Linked DNA regions of Homo sapiens: region 2 is linked to region 1. A link means that fine-mapping ties the variant in region 1 to the expression of a gene that starts in the linked region. Tissue or cell type: whole blood. Region 1 holds a variant in brackets; the other region holds the start of a gene. All regions are shown on one strand. Distances are between the middles of the regions.

The links. PIP is the estimated chance that this variant, and not a neighbour inherited with it, causes the effect.
Region 2: it holds the start of SIRT5, and the variant in region 1 is fine-mapped to the expression of SIRT5 in whole blood (INTERVAL, PIP above 0.99).

The regions. Positions count from the first base shown.
Region 1 is chr6:13,802,165-13,804,845 of GRCh38, reverse strand. It overlaps MCUR1 (mitochondrial calcium uniporter regulator 1), which reads left to right. Exons shown (of 9, transcript NM_001031713.4): 3 at 2,500-2,603. Among named protein-coding and RNA genes, the nearest start is that of MCUR1, 11 kb to the left of the region's middle. The variant C/T (reference allele first, on the strand shown) is at 1,493.
Region 2 is chr6:13,573,427-13,576,107 of GRCh38, reverse strand. SIRT5 (sirtuin 5) reads right to left here and starts at 1,507. Exons shown (of 10, transcript NM_012241.5): 1 at 1,364-1,507. It overlaps LOC105374937 (a long non-coding RNA gene), which reads left to right and starts at 1,674. Exons shown (of 2, transcript XR_926497.4): 1 at 1,674-2,143. RefSeq lists enhancers at 570-1,155, 745-1,224, 1,156-1,742 and a silencer at 1,435-1,954.

The DNA.
Region 1 (2,681 bases):
CTCATAACTCAGTAGGTTTTCAGACTTCCACTTTTTTTTTTTTTTTTTTTTTTTTGGAGACAGAGTCTGGCTCTGTCTTCCAGGCTGGAGTACAGTGGCACAATCTCGGCTCACTGCAAGCTCCACCTCCCGGGTTCATGCCATTCTCCTGCCTCAGGCTTCCGAGTACCTAAGACTACAAGTAGCTGGGACTACAGGCGCCTGCCACAACGCCTGGCTAATTTTTTGTATTTTTAGTAGAGACGGGGTTTCACTGTGTTAGCCAGGATGGTCTCGATCTCCTGACCTCGTGATCCGCCCGCCTCGGCCTCCCAAAGTGCTGGGATTACAGGCGTGAGCCACCGCGCCCGGCCAAGACTTCTACTTTTTCATATCCCTTTCTCCTCCCACAAGTGGTTATAAAGTATATGGCTTTAGAGTTTGTTTTACAATCAACATAAGTTCTCTTTCTACCTTTATTTTTCTTTTCCTCATCATTGCCAAACCTAATTTTTTTCTTTTTTTTTTTTTTTTTTTTTTTTTTGAGACAGAATCTCACTCTTTCATCCAGGCTGGAGTGCAGTGGCACAGTCTTGGCCTACTGCAACCCCCACCTCCCGGTTTCAAGCGATCCTCCCACCTCATCCTCCTGAGTAGCTGGGATTACAGGCATGCACCACCACACCTGGATAATTTTTCTGTATTTTTACTAGAGACGGGGTTTCACCATGTTGGCCAGGCTGGTCTCAAACTGCTGACCTCAAGTGATCCACCCACCTTGGCCTCCTAAAGTGCTGGGATTACAGGCGTGAACCACTGTGTCCAGTTGCCAAACCTAATTATGTTTAAACATGAACTCTTTTTTTAATTAAAATTTTTTAAAATTTTATTTACATTAAAATGGAGATGGGATCACTATGTTGCCCATGCTGGTTCTGAACTCCTGGGCTCAAAGATCCTCCCGCCTTGGTCTCCCAGAGTGTTAGGATTACAGGCGTGAGCCACCACACCCAGCCAGTGAACTCTTCTTAATAAAACTTTAAAATTTGGCAAAAGTTTAGTTTGAGTTTTTAAAAACTAGGAAGACAGACGAGAAAAAAGAAAACAGAGTCAGAGCTAAACAATGTTAACATTTTGGTGAGTAACCTTTTGTATTTTTTTTCTAGACATGTGTATAACATGTTGAAAAATTAAAGAATTTTGACGAAAGTGATGGGAATAGGTCTTTGGAGGTTTTTTTCCTTCTCCTTTAAATCTGTGTCTTTGGTTTTTTTGTTCATTATAGTCCCATGCTTCATCTCAGCCACACAAATTCCATTAATTAAGTACTACTTTATTCCAAGAAATACACAATTAATTACAGGAATCAATAGATTCTTCTGAAATTCTTATAGCTGGAAGCATTTAATAGAACTATTTCCCAGGCACTCAGTTTTAAGCATTTAATTAGAATTTATGTTAAATAGGAGTTACTATCCAATGTTTTTAAAAACAATACCAAGTACTGGCCAGG[C/T]GTGGTGGCTTGCGCCTGTAATCCCAGCACGTTGGGAGGCCAAGGCGGGCAGATCACCTGAGGTCGGGAGTTCGAGAACAGCCTGACCAACACGGAGAAACTTCATCTCTACTGAAAATACAAAATTAGCTGGGCATGGTGGCGCATGCCTGTAATTCCAGCTACTCCGGAGTCTGAGGCAGGAGAATGGCTTGAACCCGGGAGGTGGAGGTTGCTGTGAGCTGAGATCGCGCCATTGCACTCCAGCCTGGGCAACAAGAGCGAAACTCTGTCTCAAAAAAAAAAAAATACCAAGTACTGCATTGAATCTCTATCATTCAATTCAGTATCATTTATTGACTACCAAAGAACATATTTTTTCTACTTTGGGTCCCCCAGACTAGTTACTGAAGAGAATTGTGGAGGAAAAATGAAAGAACTGATTTTGTCTTTTAACATGAAGTTAGCCAACAGCTAGATTACTATTTATATAGTCAATGATTTGACTGCCTTATGCTGGACATAAAACAACTGAGCTTTCCTATTTAAGGAAATTATTTTTTAATAATGTACACATTATAAAATTAAAGAAATATTGTCCACCGTAGAAAATCTACATAATGCAGAGAAACATAAAGAAGAAAATAAAAATGACTATGAATTTTTGTTAAATTATAAAAACAAGAATTGCATCTGTAATTTTGAGTCTTGCCTTTTTTCACTTGATGTTGACTTGCCGGCATTGTCTATGTCATTAAATAGTCTCTGAAAACATGACTTTTGATAGCTAGGAACGACTTACAGATCAGTCAGCAAAGCCACCGGTACCTGGGGAAGCCAACTTGTATGTTTCGTGCTTGCTCTGAGTGACCGGCACGTCATAGTTTGTGGCTGTACCCTCCTCCCTGCCTCCTACCACACTGTGCTGTACTCTTCCTCCTGGATTTGGACATTCACATGAATGTGTGCATTTGCTGTGGGCTTTTGTAACTCTGAGCATGATTTTTTTTGCTTGTGTGCTTGCTTAGGGTTTGCTACTCAACAAGCAGAAATCATTGTGTCTGCATTGGTCAAGATCCTGGAGGCCAACATGGACATCGTCTACAAAGATATGGTCACCAAGATGCAGCAGGTTAGCCTTGTTGGGTGGTTTAGCAAATTAGGACTGTGAAGATGGGGTATTATTTGTAGTAATGTTTTAATATAATTT
Region 2 (2,681 bases), 230 kb after region 1:
TTCAGCATTATTCACAATAACCAAGATATAGAAGCAACTAAGTATCCATCAACTGAGGACCGGATAAAGAAAATGTGGCACATATATACAATGGAATACTATACAGTCTTAAAACAGAAGGCAATTCTGTCATTTGCAACAACATGGATGAACCTGGAGGACATGAGGCCAAGTAAAATAAGCCAGGCACAGAAGGACAAACAGCACATGATCTTACTTATATACTTGGGGTCTAAAAAAGTTGAACTCATAGAAGCAGAGTAGAATGATGGTTACCAGGGGCCTGGCAGAGGGCTGATGTGGAAGGGAGGGATGTTGGTCAAAGGATACAAAGTTTTAGTTAGGTAAGAGGAGTAAGTTTTAGTGATCTACTGCACAGCATGGTGACCATAGTTGATGATGTATTGTATATTTCCAGGAGAGTAGATTTTCACCACAAAAAATAAGTAGGTGAGGTGATGGATATGTCAATTAGCTTGATTTAATCTTTCTACAATGTATACATATATCAAAACATTACACTGTACGCTATAAATATATAAATTTGTCAATAAAAATAATTATATAAATATATATTTATATAAAACAAAATACATGCTAAGGATAATGCAATGAACTGCAAAAAGTTGTACAGGCTCCCAATAAATAATTTTTGAACGCCTAAGAGCTAAATAAATGCAATACATCACTCCCAGGTGTCTCCACTAGGGGGCCCCATTCCCTCCCGTTCCATCACCTGCTTTCCTCAAGGTCGTCTCCACCCTCCTATTTGTTGATACCCGGCCTCTGACCCAGTTCATCACTTTCCCGGGCTTCCGGGCGCCACCCTCTTCAGGTTTTCCTCCTACCCCTCCAGCCCTGCCCCTCTGGATCTCCCATCCTCCCAGCGCGCCAGACTGCATGCGGCCTCCCCGCCCTGTGTCCAAGAGGCAGCTTCCACTCCACGCGGGCAAGCCTGAGCTCCAGAGCCGTCCTCAAGCCGCCTCCCCCCGAAGCACTGGGACTTCATCCTCCCGGCTACTACTCGTGCCCAGGGACTAGGCCCTGAGCCTTCCCTTCTCGCACGCCCCATAGCCAAGCTGCTCAGCAGAACCTGACGGCTCCACCTTCAAACTACGTCCGGAATCCGACCCCTCTCCACGCCCACTGCCTCCACCCCGGCCACCTTCCTCGGTCACCCTGGCAGCTGCAATGACCAGGGTGACCTTTCTGAAAAGGGAGGCTCTGTTCGGAGCCCTCGCGGGGCTCCCCAGCACAGCGGCCTCCCATGCCCACCTGCTCGGGTGGGATTACTTTCCAACCCCGTTTCCATCCCCCTCCCTGGTCTCCAGCCGCAGCGACCCCCACGCAGAGCCCGGAAGACCTTGGGCCCCGCACATGCTGCCGGCCCGCTAAGAGCTCTGGGTACCCCCGGAGCGCCTTCCAGGCTTTCTCCTAGAGGCGCTGTGTCCCGACCGCGCTCCGGACCTGAGCCACGGCTCACCTGGGGCAGCTCGCGCCCCCGAATACAGTCTCCCACGCCCCGCCCCCCGGGGTGCCTCCCTCCCAGCTCTCTGTACCCACCCACCATCCCCCACATCCCTTCCTCCAACCGCTAGCCAGTCACCAGCCCGGGACCGCAGGGCAGAGGCCGGGCCGCGCATGCGCACCGCGGACCGGTGCCACCTCCGCTCGCGAGCCCGCGGCAGGCCCTGGGCGGTGCGCGCAGTCCCGCGAGAGCAGTGCTTGGTCGGGACCTCGAAGCCGGAGCCCGAGCGGGAGAGGCCGCGGAGACCCCGGCCCGGCGCAGGCAGAGACGCACCTGCGGGAGGCGGGCGCGCCGGCTGGAGAGGAGGCCGTGGGGCGGAGCGGCTCAGCGTTCTGCTCGGCTGCAGCGGCCCCTGCCGGAGACCCGGGCGCCGTGGTCTTCTTTATAATTGAAGGATTGTCTCTCTGTTTTTATTTGGGGTGGGGGTGGGGGTGGGGGGCGGCGCAGTGACTTGCTTCGACTTTGTCAGCTTCCAGGGTTCATTCCACTGCCCAAATATGTAGTGAGTTACTACCGGCTTTGCTTCCTCCTTCAGCAAACGGCTGGACCACACAACTTCAGGAGAGAGGATTTTAAATGTTAGGGTCATTTTCCCTAAAACGATTTCAAATGACGGTGAGTTGGTTCCCAGGCTAGGCCACCTAACCTCGAACGCAATGACGAGTGCACTCTGACTGCTGAGCTGAGAGCCTTCCGTGGCTCTGGGACCCAGTGACTCACGTGGCTCCGCATGTCCCCGTTCCCTTAAAATCGGAGTCTTTCCTTTTCTTGGATTCCGGCTTGCCACCAGCACCACTTGGCAGAATGGAATTGCTTGCGGGCATGTCAGTGGACTAGAAAGGGAAGTAAGTGGTCTGAGAACTTGGGGGCCAAAAATGTTACATTAACATTTTTTGCCTACCTAAAATCTCAGCCACTTCCCACAGTTTGGCTGGAAATTCAGCCCATGTTGAGGCCCTTCTCATTCCTGCAGGTGTTACCAGCAACTCAGAGGTTTATGGAGTAACGAAATTGGGGAGGGCCTCACATCCGGCTGCTGTTTTTCCCCCTAACGTGTATGGTGCTTATTCTGAGCCAGACACTTTTAAGAACTGCACATTATTAACCATTTTAAATCGTCCCCACCACCTGATGAAATAGGTACTGTTATCCC